2 separate regions of the Homo sapiens genome follow, and region 2 is linked to region 1. The links come from fine-mapping of genetic effects on gene expression. Tissue or cell type: whole blood. Region 1 holds a variant in brackets; the other region holds the start of a gene. All regions are shown on one strand. Distances are between the middles of the regions.

What was found. PIP is the estimated chance that this variant, and not a neighbour inherited with it, causes the effect.
Region 2: it holds the start of TTN, and the variant in region 1 is fine-mapped to the expression of TTN in whole blood (TOPMed, PIP above 0.99).

Annotation. Positions count from the first base shown.
Region 1 is chr2:179,019,841-179,027,949 of GRCh38, reverse strand. The region is part of intron 2 of CCDC141 (coiled-coil domain containing 141); the gene reads left to right. Among named protein-coding and RNA genes, the nearest start is that of CCDC141, 26 kb to the left of the region's middle. The variant CTTG/G (reference allele first, on the strand shown) is at 3,326.
Region 2 is chr2:178,803,637-178,811,745 of GRCh38, reverse strand. TTN (titin) reads left to right here and starts at 4,323. Exons shown (of 363, transcript NM_001267550.2): 1 at 4,323-4,534; 2 at 7,091-7,194. The coding sequence starts at 7,104.

The DNA of each region.
Region 1 (8,109 bases):
AAACATTGAGTACACATGGATGCAAAGAAGGGAACAACAAACACCAGGGCTAATTTTGGGTGAACAATGGGATGAGGGTGTATTAGCTAGTTTTCACGCTGTTGATAAAGACATACCAAGACTGGGCAGTTTACAAAAGAAAGAGGTTTAATGGACTTACTGTTCCACATGGTTGGGGAGGCCTCACAATCATGGTGGAAGGCAAGGAGGAACAAGTCACATCTTACATGGATGGCAGCAGACAGAGAGAGAGCTTGTGCAGGGAAACTTTTTTTTTTTTTTTTTTTTTTTTTTTTTTTTTTTGAGAGTAAGAGTCTCACTCTGTTGCCCAGGCTGGAGTGCAATGGCACGATCTTGGCTCACTGCGACCTCCACCTCCCGGGTTCATGCCATTCTCCTGCCTCAGCCTCCCAAGTAGCTGGGACTACAGGCACCCGCCACCATGCCCAGCTATTTTTTTTGTATTTTTAGTAGAGACAGGGTTTCACCGTGTTAGCCAGGATGGTCTTGATCTCCTGACCTTGTGATCCGCCCGCCTCAGCCTCCCAAAATGCTGGGATTACAGGCGTGAGCCACCATGCCTGGCCGGAAACTCTCATTTTTAAAAGCATCCAATCTCATGAGACTCATTCACTATCATGAGAACAGTGCAGGAAAGACCTGCCTTCATAATGCAATCACTTCCCACTGGGTTCCTCCCATGACGTGTGGGAATTGTGGGTGTTACAATTCAAGATAAGATTTGGGTGGGGACACAGCAAATCATGTCATTTCACCCTGGCCCCTAGCAAATCTCATGTCCTCACATTTCAAAACCAATCATGCCTTCCCAACAGTCCCCCAAAGTCTTAACTCATTTCAGTATTAACTCAAAAGTCCACAGTCCAACGTCTCATCTGAGGTGGGGCAAGTCCCTTCACACCTATGGCCTGTAAAATCAAAAGCAATTTAGTTATTTCCTAGATACAATGAAGGTACAGGCATTGGGCAAATACAGCCATTCCAAATGGGAGAAATTGGCCAAAACAAAGGGGCTATAGGCCCCATGCAAGTCCAAAATCCAGCAGGGCAGTCAAATCTTAAAGCTCCATAATAATCTCCTTTGACTCTATGTCTCACCTCCAGGTCATGCTGATGCAAAAGGTGGGTTCCCATGGTCTTTGGCAGCTCCACCCCTGTGGCTTTGCAGGGTTCAGCCTCCCTCCTGGCTGCTTTCATGAGCTGGCATTGTGCGTCTGTGGCTTTTCCAGGTGCGCAGTGCAAGCTGTCAGTGGATCTACCATTCTGGGTCCTGGAGGAGACTGGCACTCTTCTCACAGCTCCACTAGGCACTGCTGCTGGGGGTACTCTGTGTGGGGGCTCTGACCCCACATTTCCCTTCTGCACTGCCCTAGCAGAAGTTCTCTATGAGAGCCCTACCCCTGCAGCAAACTTCTGCCTGGACATCCAGGTGTTTCCATACATCCTCTGAAATCTAGGCAGAGGTTCCCACACCTTAGTTCTTGACTTCTGTGCACTTGTAGGCTCAACATCACATGGAAGATGCCAGGGCTTGAGGCTTGCACCCTCTGAAGCCATGGCCTGAGCTCTATGTTGGCCCCTTTCAGCCATGGCTAGAGTGGTTGGGATGCAGGCCACCAAGTCCCTAGGCTATGCACAGCACAGGAACCCTGGGCCCAGCCCATGAAACCACTTTTTCCTCCTAGGCCTCTGGGCTTGTGATGGAAGGGGCTGCAATGAAGACCTCTGATATGCCTTGGAGACATTTGCTCCATTGTGTGGGAATTAACATTTGGCCCCTCATTACTTATGCAAATTTCTACAGCCAGCTTGAATTTTTCCTCAGAAAATGGGATTTTATTTTCTATCACATTGTCTGGCTGCAAATTTTCCAAACTTTTATGGTCTGCTTCCCTTATAAAACTGAAGGCCTTTAACAGCACCCAATTCATCTCTTGAATGCTTTGTTGCTTAGAAATTTCTTCTGCCAGATACCCTAAATCATCTCTCTTAAGTTCAAAGTTCCACAAATCTCTAGGGCAGGGACAAAATACCACCAATCTCTTTGCTAAAACACAATAAGTTCTCATTTCCATTTGAGACCACCTCAGCCTGGACTTTATTGTCCATATCACTGTGGCATTTTGGACAAAGCCATTCCATAAGTCTCTAGGAAGTTCTAAACTGTCCTACATTTTCCTGTCTTCTTCTGAGCCCTCCAAACTCTTCCAACCCCTGCCTGTTACCTAGTTTCAAAGTTACTTCCACATTTTCAGGCAACTTTTCAGCAATGTCCCACTCTACTGGTACCAATTTACTGTATTAGTCCATTTTCACACTGCTGATAAAGACATACCCAAGACTAGGCAATTTACAAAAGAGAGAGGCTTAATGGACTTACAGTTCCATGTGGCTGGGGAGGCCTCACAATCATGGCAGAAGGCAAGGAGGTGCAAGTCATGTCTTACATGGATGGCAGCAGATGAAGAGAGAGAGAGCTTATGCAGGGCAACTCCCGTTTTAAAACCATCAGATCTCGTGAGAGTCATTCACTATATGAGAACAGCACAGGAAAGACCCACCCCCGTAATTCAGTCACTTCCCACTGGGTTCCTCCCACAACACCTGGGAATTGTGGGAGTTACAATTCAAGATGAGATTTGGGTGGGGAGACAGCCAAACCATATCTGAGGGTGAAGATCAAAAAATTACCTATCAGGCACTATGCTGATTACCTGCGTGACAAAATAATCTGTATCCCGAACCCCTGTGACACACAGTTTACCTATATAACAAACCTGCACATGTATCCCTGATCTTAAAGTAGAAGTTAAAAAAAAAAAGAAAAGAAAAAGAAAATGAACAATCTCTGTAAGGAGCAGTAGAGAAGAGGAAGGAAGGCCTAAGTAGGTGATTCTCAACTGGGCTGGCATCAGAATCAACTGAGGAACTTAAAAAAATAAACCACAGGACTCATATATTCAGGCCCCAAACCCAAAGAGGCAAAGAAAGGCTGGAGTGCCTGTATGTTTTTTTTAAAAAGTTTTTGCAGTAATTCTAAAACACAATGAGGAATAAGAAGCTCTGACTATAACCCAAAGAAACATTTTTCCATTAAACAACAACATTAAAGTGCCATCAATGGAATTGAAAAAGAGACTAATGGAAAGTTAGAGGCAAAAATATTCAGGGTCCCATCACAAACATTTGGAGAAAAGGAAATTCTAACACAGAAGTATTGAGTAGTGTCGAAAACAGCAGTGTGTTTGAGGAAGCTGACGTGAGCTCTGACAATGAGGAAATTATCATTGCTCTCTGAAACCTT[CTTG/G]GAGAGCTTGCCACTTACCTTACTGGCCATGACCTCCTCTGAGTACCTTCTATAACTTGCAGCCTACCTACTTCTACTGTAGTATGTGTTTCATGACAGACCATGAGTGTTTCATTTTCATCTTTGTGAGATTGTGGACATATTTCTATCCATAGAGCCTAGCACCATGCTTGGATTACATGTACAACAAATGTTTGTGGAATGAATGAATAAAGGAATGAATGAATGAATACATATATTCATGACATAATCACAGGAACAGTTCATCTCTGTGTAATAACAAAAGAAACATGCGAAAAAGGAATGTGGGTAAAGAAACAAAATAGCAATGATTTAAATGGTATTCACATACCTTGCTGTTCTTGCTTGCAACAGTTCTGAGGGTTTGAAGAAGATTCAATTATTAATGTATGGAACATTTGGGCTCCTAAGAGAACATGGTGGAACGGATGAATAATTAATGCTGTTAGTTTTTCTGATTTGTGTCATTATTCTTCTTTTAACTGAGCCAGAGGATGGATTTCCCTGTAAATTATAGATGTCCTCATTTTGGAATGCCATTATGGCCTCCTGAGCTTTGCCCTCACCTAAGCCGGGCCTGTCTTTCTCTACTGTGTTTCCTCCGAGTTTCTCAACCAATGTCTCATTATGCACAGTACAGTGTCACATTAATGTGGTACTTACACAAGCATGGCCTGTATAATGTATATCAAGCATGGTTTATGAAGTATTTACATTCATATAATCTTGGGTACCTGTTAAAGGGCAGCTCTCCAGACCTCTATGAGATAAGACTCTCTGTGGGTAGAGCAGGGCCATTTGCACTTGGCACCTGCAGCTCCAAGGCTCTTCCTCATCATTTAGCATTGCTTTTAATGTTAGTTTGCTTATATTTTTACATATGTATATATTTCTCATAAGAGTGTAAGTTTTCCTCAGGACAGAGATTGTGTTGGTGCACATTAAGTTCTTTTCAAGATAGTTTTTGTCTAAATTAGTTGTAAGAAATTTAGAGCCCAAGTTGTGATATATGTATAAACATAACACAGTGGACTTTTATTGCATGATTGCTAGTGAGAACCACTTTTAAAAATTTAATATTTAATTTCAAACATTACATATATTTTAAATGTTTTAAATGTATTAATCTGTTTAATATTTAAAAAATCATATGAGTTAAATTTCATAACAGGCAACATAACTTAGCAGTTTTGTATGTATGCTCTGCCTGCCTGGATGTGCATTCCAGTGTTGCTGCTTGGCTGTGTAACTCTGGGGAAGTTACTTATCCTCTTTCTGCCTCAGTTTCCTCATCTGTGAAATGGAGGTAGTAATACCTACCTCAGAAGGTGGATGTGAGGATTTAGTGAGTTGAAACCTTTAAAGAATTTGAAACAAGGCTTCACACATAGTAAGTGCTGAATGATTACCTCTTATTATTTTTAATCTCCATTTTACAATTGAAGAAACTAATACATACACAAGTGTGTATATACAAATGTATATACAGTCATTTGCCCTGGTCATATAGCTAGGAAGCCATGGAGCTGGGGCTCCCACTCCAGTGGTGTGCCTTTGTGCGATTCCCCATACCCAGCATGCTGTGTGCCCTTCAATCATTAACTGTAGTATGAGATCCCACTTATTTGGGGGAGTCATAGGGATGGTACGCGTCACTTCTCAGCTGACTGAAAAGGACCACTCAGTTAGCAATACTGAGGCCGTGGATCTCATAGGATTTGCAGGAACCACGTCACATAGCATCAAGATGGCTCTGCTCCACCTGGCTAGCTTCCCTGTCTACTGTGTGCCTCTGTCCTTGGCATTGGAAGGGACACACACACAAAATGTAAAAGGCATTCTTGGCCTCCAGAAATATATGATGTACAATATATAGAGAACAAAATGACCCTGGTAGACTCACAAAGCAGTTAAATAACAGTGAAGTCACAACATCAAGGCACTATCTGAGTAATTAAGTCCCCAGATGAAAGACACTGATCGTGAAAGTACCATAGACATATTCATGGAGAAAGAGAAATTAATTTAGCTGGAGTGGTTTCATGGGGAAGGTAGAATTTAATACAAGGTTGTGGGAATAAGTGGCGTGAGACGGAACAGTGTTTGGGGCAGGGAAGAGAGCTAGGTCTTCAAGGTAGAAAAGCTGCCTCTTTCCTCGGCTTTGGCTTCATCCTGTGAACAGACGTTAGCTTAGTGCTCGTATTTATTTATCTTTCTGTTTGGTACAAAAACTTCCTATTGTTCTAGCTTTCATCAAGTCTTAGGGAATGTGTTATTCTCTTTGTTGCTATTTTTGTATTTTATTCAAGCATGGTAGAGTTCAGATTCCCCAGTAAAACACACAATGGTATTCTTGATAAGCTTCCAGGACTGTTTTTTCGGTCACTTGAAAGGCCACAGAACTCTGCAAAAAAGGTAGTGAAATCCAAACAAATCCAAGCGTACAGACCACTCCCTCAAACAGCAGAAACTACTATTAATTATTTGGTCCATACACCTGTAGATTATTTCTAATTACATTATTTACTTCATTTAACAGAACAGATATGGAAGAGTCATTTGTACGCAAATATCCAAAAAGAAAAAATTAAGGAGACGCATTTATAAGAATTAATGTTGTAGAGCCTTTTAGATGCATTGAAATGTTTTAAAATACTATCTTTTATTAGGCCTATGCAAAAGAAATATTTTTGGAACAATTATTTTGCAGTAAACTGAGAAGAAAATATCTGATCTGGTTCCATTTACATTATACTTAGTCTCATAATTATAAAGGGACTAAGTTGTAGCTGGCATTTCCATTATAAACAGATTTTATGGTCCTTTAATAAATGGTTCTAGTTTGAAGAGTGACCAAGAAAACACAAATCCTTATTTTTTAAATCCAAATGGACTGATTCAATACAATGTCAGAATTTTCCAAGTTGCTTTTCATAATTTTGTCTCTTTCTGTTACTGTGTATGTCACTGACATTTCCTACTGACGGCAGAACCATTTCATCTTTTACTCATTTGGTTTTAGCACAGGAGCCCCTGAAAATTAAAGAGTTGACACAAGAATTCTCAATTCACTGAGGGCTGTGGTCTAGCTTTCAGTTAGAGGTGATTTCCACTCGGGACAGCTGTGACCCTCAGGTTTTCAGCAGCTCATTAGCTGCAGCTTCTATTTCAAACTGAAGCCAATCAGAATACTAGTTCTGTTATTTGTGTGCCAGTTTGGATTAGGGGCAGCCTATACAAATAGGACAGGGTAACACCCCCTTCAGATAGGCATGGGCAATTAGGTTTGCATAGCTAAAATTAAGTGGTGGTATGTTCATTTCTCTTTCACCAGAAAAAATAGTTGAAGCCAGAAATTCATTATGCCTGTCAGCAGTATGTGTAAACTCAAAATCAAATTCAGCATGGTTTACAACGGAAGGTACAACCTACTTCTTAGTGAAATAAAGGCATAAAATGCCTATAAAAGGAAGTATGTAATTTCCAAAGTATTTATTATCTTATAATTATCTTACATTTTGGTTACTATTAATGATGGTGATTATGCTAAGTTACTAACTTTTATGGAAGACTGAACAGTAGCCAGGTGATGTGCTAACAATCACATGCTAATCAGCCCGCATGTGAGAAAGGATTTGTTATCAACATCAAGGTTTTCCTTACATCCCTGAAATCATACCACGTATTTGCTTATTTATTCCATCAACATTTATGGCTAACCCTAACTGCCATCAGGAAATGTTGAAGCCTGTAGAAATATAAGCATTGCATGTAACTGAGCTGTAACCACTAAAATATCTTCATAGAATCCACATAAAACTAGATTAGAATAATTAACATTACATAAATGCATGCATACTTACTTTAGAGACTGCTTTCATATCATTGTCTCATTTTAGTATATATAATAAGGGCCAGTGTGGTATGGACTCATTTTCACAGGTAAGGGAGCTGAGTCTCAGGGAGATTAAGGGACTTGCTCAGGTTTATTAACTGGCTGAGCTGGGACTCACACTCTGATTAAAATCTCATTTTCATGATCTTTCCATGATGTTGGATCCTGTGGCTTCCTGGCACAAGCTGAGCATGGAAGCCTGCTGCTATCTAGAAATATACACCTGATCCCATGAGAAGTGCTATCATATCACAGCCAACGTGGTCTCATGGGATCAGGTGTATATTTCTAGGTAAGCCTAAGACTGGCCCAGTTCCAGCTTGGAGGATTCTGACATGCAGATCCTTAGTTCCCCTGCGTGGGGCAGTGTTGATCAGCCCAGAGTAGCACTCTGGCACACTGGATAGGAGTGTGGGGACTACATAACTGACAAAGAGTAGGAAAATATTTAGGTAAAATTATGCTTTTGGATTTTAACCCTAAAGCTCCTTACATTGTTGAGTGAGAGAAAAAAAACCACACACCTGTATTTGAAATACACATGCCCGTTCTATGGAACTTTTTGGATTCTACATGACGGTTATAACAGTCTTTATTGCTAATAAATATGAAACTATTTTCTCTTATCTTATCTATCAAATGATCTTTCCAGCTGGGCATAGTGGTCCATGCCTGTAATCCTAGCACTTTGGTAGGCCCAGGTGGTCAGATTGCTTGAGCTCAGGAGTTTGAGACCCACCTGGGCAACATGGTGAAACTCTGTCTCGAAAAATTAGCTGGGCATGGTGATGCATGCCTGTAGTCCCAGCTACTTGGGAGGCTAAGGTAGGAAGATTGCTTGAGCCCAGGAGGTTGAGGCTGCAGT
Region 2 (8,109 bases), 220 kb after region 1:
CAGTTTTGGAAAATCCATCCCTGAGCTTGTCAGACGCATTGAAATATACCAATCTCAAGTGCAGTTGACTAGTTGACATATCTTCTTTTGTAGGTATTTGATAAATATCCATTATTTTCATTGTTGCAGATTTCTTTTTGTATTTCAAAGCAAAACTTATTTTTCAGCTCCCAAACATGTTTTTGGCCCTGAAAGAGCCCTTAATCCCTGTCCCCAGGTGCCGTGTCTGCAGTGGTTACTGGAAAAAATGAGCCTGGTTGCCTCCCTTCAGCATGTGTAAAGCTTGATATTTGACAGCAGTATCACCTCCAATGAGCATTTGCTGGTGGTTAGATCTAATCAGGTTTATAGATTCCTGCCACAGGCCTTCAGAAGTCCAACTTATTTCTTTTTTAAGATTCCAGTATTTCTTGGGCTTTGCTTTAATCCACATATAAGTGTCATGTCACCTTCTGAGGGCCTTCAGGGAAGGACGTGACATGTGCTTTATTCCATGAGCTCACTTTTGGACTTCTCAAAGATTTCTTAGAAAATACTATCTTGTATATTTTATCAGGTAGTCAGAGATAATTGAGCAAATCAATACTACCAAGCACAGAAATTATTTTCTTAGTGTCATGCCTGGCAGCAGCAAACAAACAAAATGCCTACCATGTGTCAGATTCTCATGGTCCTGGACACTGTCACGTTCATTCTGTCATTTAATATTCCTAATAACTCTTTGAAGTCGAGATAATAATCTCCAATTTGCAACTGACAAATCTGAGACAGAGATTCAAGTGAGTTGCCTAAACCCAGGTAGAATAGGAGAGAAATTCCAAGTGCCCCTAACAGCAGTGCTACTGAGACATTCAAGACTTTAATTTTTTTATCTTTCTTACTTTGGTAAAAATATCTTACGTGTCTGAAATAATCTTTTTGTATTCGATGTGGTGTTAAATGCATCTGTGACTATTCGTACACTTGTAAATAGTTGTGGAAACCTAATTTGATCTTGCTTCTAAAGAAATTATAACTGGATGTAGAAAAAAATGGGACAATAAGTCTTTTAAATTGTAAGCAACAATTTCTTGCCTCCCACATTCCCAGTGTAGCTTTTTCCGCCTCTATAACTCAAAGAACACGACTGTCTTCCATTAGAATAAATTGTTTTTGTCAGCACGCTTTTCCCTGTGCACTTCTTGAATTTGCTTTTCTATTTCCTTGTTTAAAAATAGCTCCATGATGAGCCTATATTTCAGCTTTGATATATTTTATGAGTGGAAAGGAAATTACAGATATTATATCACTTAATATTACTGTGTTAACAAAAATGTAAACTCTTAGAGGGCAGGTATTTTTGTGTGTTGTGTGCATTGCTATGATCTCTGTGCCTAAACTGTGTTTAATACAATAAAAGAACACACAAAAAAATTTAATCAGTCATAAGATACATTAGTTTTACTCTCTTCTAGTATCCTTGCATTGGCCTTCAAAACTGTACCCATTTCTCGAATAACTCCCAGTAAGTCCTTCCTTTGTAAATGGTCCTATATAAGGTAAACAAAGTCTGACTATGTAGTTGGAGTTACTGCCTGAGTTTTACATATATCCTAGACTTGGTCTCAGTCACAGATTAATGAGCATTCACTAAGAGTTGATGTAGACCATGATCTCTAAGAGCACAATAATTCTAACTGTCTTTTCTTGGTCAGCTCTGCCTAGCCATCACTAGCACAATGCCCAGCACAAAGTCACCACTCAGTAGATATTTGTCAAATCAATAAATAATGACAGAATCCAAAATCGTAATAATTTATCCCAGTGCTCAGCACTGACTATATGTTTAATAAATATTTATTGAATTTCATTGAATATTGTGCTTAAAGAGAGAATCATGCCATGCATTCCAAATTAAGTAGGCATTACATTTGAATTATCAGCTGTTTGGGATTATCTGTGTGGCTCCTCCCCACTGTTAGGGTGGTAAATTGAGATCTTACTCCATCAGCAAACTCCCCAAATCTGCCTAGTATTTGGTTTCCACAAGACTAGTTTACTAATTCTAACGATGGCATATTTAATTTTAAAACTAATGCATACCATGATATCATATACTGTCCATTACTATTCCAATAATAAGAACTCTTTTTCAGAGCAGCATATTAGTTATTTACTAACTGGTCCCTTCTTTCCTTTTCTTTCTTCTTTTTTCTTTTGTTCATTCATTTTTTTCTTTTCTTAATTCTGAATGTCACATAAACATATAAAGGCCTAAAGGCAAGGATCTTGACAATATTGCAAGGTGTATTAGGGTTCTCTAGAGGGACAGAACTAATATGTATATAGGGAAGAATATATACATACATATATATATTTATATAAAGGGAAGTTTGTTAAGTATTAATTCACACAATCACAAGGTCCCACAATATGCTGTCTGCAAGCTGAGGAGCAAGGAGAGACAGTCCAAGCCCCAAAACTGAAGAACTTGGAGTCCGATGTTCGAGGGCAGGAAGCATCCAGCTCGGGAGAAAGATGTAGGCTGGCAGGCAGGGTCTAGAAAAGTCTAAGAACAGTGACTAGACAATCAGCTTAAGAGGACAGACACTTGACTTTATGTTTATAACATATGGTCCATCTTCTTGGCTCTTGAGTTACCTGAATTGCATCATGTCAAGATGACGCAGGCTTCCAGATTATAGTCACTTCTTCCCTCTAGTTCCCGTAAGAATTAAAATGATTTGACTTTAGTTCCAACAAACATAACGTAACATTAATGTGCTTCACATTAGGTCAAATGAGTCTAAAAATACACACACGCACACTACATACCCACACACAAATATGCACAAACGTATCTTAAATAGATAGCCAATTGGTGAACACTCCAAAACAGAAAGATCATACATTTCTAGTGTTTCTTTGCCTTATGACTGGCAGATTCTTTGTAACACAAATCTCTCAGTGGGAATAATTTTCAAAGTATATAATATGAAACCAGTTGTTTCTGAATAAAGCAATCAAATAGAATTATAGCAGATGCCATCTATGGGGGTGGAAATGGTGCCACCAATACAGATACCACCACTTAAGTAAAGGAGAAAAATGTTTAAATAAGTACATGGCGTCATCTTGTTAACATAACTATACTACATTAGTTGTCAGTAAATTTAAACTGTTAAACATTAACATATTAATCACTATATAAATAAATACAAGATATGAAATACTCAAGAAATTGAAAAGTTTAATGCATGGCCAAATTCTTCCATAACAGGGAATATTTTTATTACAGACATAAAGAAATTTAACTTAAATTAAAAATTTTAGTCTCTTTTATTGATAAAAGTCTCTTTCCATTATCAACAAGACAATTTTCCTCCCTCTAAGTAGAGTTTCACAAATCTCTCAGCTGAGTCATTATAAAGATCTTTTGGTGTGCTCTTTTTTATTTGAAATATCTCTTGCTTGAAATTAAATTCAGTCCTAAAATAGCAACTATATCACCTCCTATCCACTTCCCATTAGTAACAGCAAACTCCAGAGATTAGCAGAACAGCATTCATGTGTCTGGAAAAGGAACCTTATGGATGATTTAAGCATAAGACCTGGCTACTTACTAAGGAGCAGTACACACATATTTGTAAATATTAATGCCAGACAAAAATGAAATCTGACAAAGGTGAAATCATTGTACTGTACAGACTAACCTAAGCAGAGTTCCAATTTTGCCTTTCAACATTATATCTTGCAGGGTTGTATAAGCAATAAGCTCATTAACATCAGTGTAACTGTCCCCGAAATACAAGTGGATTCTGGAGAATGTAGGTAGTACAAATGAGCTCTCTTCAACGTTAAGGTTTATAGCAACTGATTCTTCAGAGAACATGAAGCCTTATGCTTGAGATAAATTTCCTCATCTGCTGTCATGATTGACAGGTCCATTTGGTTTGTTTTATGGGGGAAGGGAACAGGACTGGGGCCTGACTCAGGGCACAGTCCTCAGGTTTGGGGCTCTTTTGTATGACTGCCCACAAGTGCTATCTACTGTCACACCTCTTTAAACCTGCATTTTCGGATTTTAACATCAGCAACCAATGCTCTTCTCTGAGCCTCAACACAGTTATTCTTTAAATACAGTTCTATTTCCTTGGTGAAGTCTCCTTTGAGGTACTAAATTTAGCACTGTCAATCAGAAGAACAGGTGGTATGTGACACTACCAAATAGGTCCTCTCCCATCATGCTTTCCTAAGACAGCCAATCACCCAGGGCCCTGCCTAAGGATGTGGGGCTGTCAGCAGATCTGGTGAATATAAGGGCAGGCCAGACCCTGGCTCTTGAGCAGTCGTGCATTCCCAGCCTCGCCTCGGGTGTAGGGATTGCATAGAAAAGCAAAACTACACAGTCTTGACTGTGTAGTTTTGTTTTTAGGATTAGAGGCTCACCGATTCATGTCGGAGATGGTCAGAAAAACCAACTCTCCATAGGACGTCGTTTCAGAAGCAACCTTGGGCTTAGTCCCACCCTTTTTAGGCACTCTTGAGAAATCAGGTGAGCAGCAACTTTTCTTATTTTAATAGTAGAGTCACTTTCTTATTGATCTCTGGCTCTGGATTATTTGTGTGTGCTAAATGCCTATGTACAAGTGTTTGTATGACTATTTCTTGCCAGTGCTGACCCATTATTTAAATCTGCTTGTTAAATTCTATTTTAAAATGTCTGAACATTTTTCCTTAAAAAGTTGAAAGCTTTATTATATCAGCTAAATGATTCCATGATTCAAATTGTTTAAGTTCACTTAATATTCTAAAAGTTGAGGTCTGAAATGTTGAGAGAAATGTTTACTTCTTTTCTAGACTCTCTTTGCCTGTTGAGAATGTTCAAGGTTATATTACTCAATGATAAAGTTAAGCACACCAAGAATAGCTCTGATAAAATGCATGTGGTATCAGCTACACCCTGATGACTTTTTAAGGGAATCAACTGCTGAGGTATCAGTTGCAGGACAGTGACAGAACACTTGCCTGCTGTCAGTCAACCTTGGAGAGTTTAGGAGAGTTTATTTTAAGAGCATGACATTTTAGACGCATACCTTCAGCCCCAGTTAGACAAAGGCCTGTGAAGAGCAAGTGCTAAGGCAATAAAATTTACCTAGACAATAGGAATGTAAGATCAATTTAAGCTGGTTAATTGCAACATAGTTGGAGATTTGGAATAAAATGATATAATTGTTTTCTAAAATATTCAGAATCTCTTCATGCATTTTAACTCAGCACACAGTCCAATTATATATTTTGAGATAAATGTTGACACTAAGAAGGGTAAGAAATAATGTTTAAAGGAAAGGTTTCTTACTTCTAAATACACTTTGATTTCTCATCTTCCTAGAATTTGATTACTAATTGTCAATGCCTGTAAATACATAGATATATAATTAGGTATTCTATGTCTAAGAGGACAGCTATTTTTAGATATACTAACTTATAAACAGACAAAGTTAGACACAGAAAGTTGTTCATCCCAAAGATAATATGCTACAAAAAGGAGTTTCTGACAAAAAAAATTTATGAAAGCTTTTGGATATTATCTGATTTTTCCAAATATAAATTTTATTGTCTCAGAGAATGCTGGTTTCATTTTTTTAACTAAGTAGAAGGTTACAGTAAGGAACAGAATTATCACTAAGAAGATTATTGCTCCATGAAGTTTTAGTAAACAAAGAATTTAATGAAAAATAGTAATGAAGTGATTGACAATTCAGAAATGTTCTATTTCAGAACAGAATAGTCATGTTGAATAATTAGGTATTTATGCATCAGAAAATTCTTCACATAATGTCTCTGAAACTGATAGGCAAAGTACTTTCTTGCACTTAACAAAATGACTTAACTGCAAATTTTATATTCGTTTCTTTGATGTTGAATATTTTACTTTATGAAAGCATAGGCCTTTTCACTTCATCTACATTTTACACCAGCCTTCCATTATTCAAAGTTTGCAAATTGTTCCATATTAAGAACTCAAGCCAGCATTTTTCTTTCAGAACTATAATAAACTTTGGCCTGTTCACTAAAATTTAAATTTTTCTGAATATTTACTTCAGCAGTAACAACATTTACTGCACAGTTACAGTATGAAGAAATGTTAAGAAATAGAAAGCACCGTATGCCGTCTACAAAAAGCTTGCATATTTGATAAGGCTTGCCAAAGCTTCTCCAGTCAGGAAAGAGATTACAAAGTTCAGATTTTTACTTCTGGCAACTATTTTAAGTAATCAGATAATGTCTGAATCAATGTCAACTTTATAAATATAGAGTGAACGAAAAATATTGGGGAGAAGGAAAATTTTTAAAATAATTTTCACTTACTAAGCTGATGCAGAGGTTTATTTATTTTAATTTTTTTTTTTTTTTTTTTTTGAGACAGAGTCTCATTCTGTCACCCAGGCTGGAGTGTGGTGGCACCATCTTTGCTCACTGCAACCTCCACCTCCTGGGTTTAAGCAATTCTCATGCCTCAGCCTCCCAAGTAGCTGGGACTACAGACATGGGCCACCACGCCTGGCTAATTTTTGTATTTGTAGTAGAGACAGGGGTTTCACCATGTTAGCCAAACTGGTCTCAAACTCCTGACCTCAAGTAATCCTCCCGCCTCGGCCTCCTAAAGTGCTGGGATTACCAGCATGAGCCACCACGCCAGGCCCAGAGGTTTATTTTACATTTATCACATGTCTTGTCTCTCTAATTACACTTCACTAACCCTGCATTGCTGTGGTTTTCTTCTTCAACTCTGAACCTGGTTTTCCACCATTGGTAAGACTGTATATTCCCTCTTTGACCACTAGGGTTCATTCCTTGTTCTGTTTGGCTAATACTTTTTTCCATTTCCCCTTACACTTGCTACTTTGGGTTAGGCTTTAAGTCAACTCAATGATGAACTATGCAAAACTGTTCAAGCCACAAAAGAGAAGACCTGCCCATCACTCTAGGCCCACAGATGACCTATGGAGCAATCCATTTGGAGAAACGTGTGTCTCTGCTATCTGCAAAGCAGCTCCAGAGTGACCCTTAGCTGGGACACCCTAATTTATTTTCTCTTCTTTTTCAGAGTGCCTAGAAAGATGACAACTCAAGCACCGACGTTTACGCAGCCGTTACAAAGCGTTGTGGTACTGGAGGGTAGTACCGCAACCTTTGAGGCTCACATTAGTGGTAAGCTCACACATTCACACTTTTGTTTTTTTTTCCTTTGCCTCCTCTCCAGTAAGTTAACGTTGCTGCAGGACTTGACGCCAAGTTTAAGCCCTGCTTTCACTTCGGAAAATTAGTCCAACACTATGGAAAGGTCATTTTAAGGGTATACCATTCACAGAGTACTGACAAAATCTGACAATATAATGGCTTGAAATGTTTTATTCATATTTATTATTCCACAAAGCAAAAATAATTAGTGTTGGATTAAAATTGCCGTTAGAATCCAGCAACTAAATAGGACCAAATTTAGTCATTCTATATTTGGGCTCAGCTGCAGAGCCAGACTGGAAGCCAAGAACTCAAGCCCAATAGAAGCCAGCCACAGAGCCATGGGGTAGGCAGTCTGGGCTGCCTGCTCTGGACACCTGAACTTCAGTTGGTTCACACGCAAAATAACAGTGCATCTAATTTTCCTCAGAGGCAGAGCTGTTCAGTAATTAACCAACTCCTCATTATTTTATTATTTTATTTTCAATCTTTATTGAGTGATTCTAATGAATTAAAAGACTTTCCAATCGTTTTGAAATGACAGAAAATAATATGCTTCTCGGGTGTCTCTATTTAAAAGGAAGCAAACACTAACCCTAGAATTTTATCTGAAAGGAAGTTCATCTCTTTTTTGCCTTCTTTTTCTTCCTCATAACTCAGTTTATGGATGGTTCAAAAAAATGCATGGTATCATCTTATGAAAAAATGGAGAGTAGTGTATGAACTATATTGTAAATAATTTTAAAATTAATCAATATTTTCTCTTTCTGTAGTATTGTAACGAGCCATGTAAGATGGATACGGATTAAAAAAAATCATGCTTAATTCTTAATTTAGTGCACTTCCATGGTTCATTGCCCACTTCTTTTTTAAAATTTTATGGCT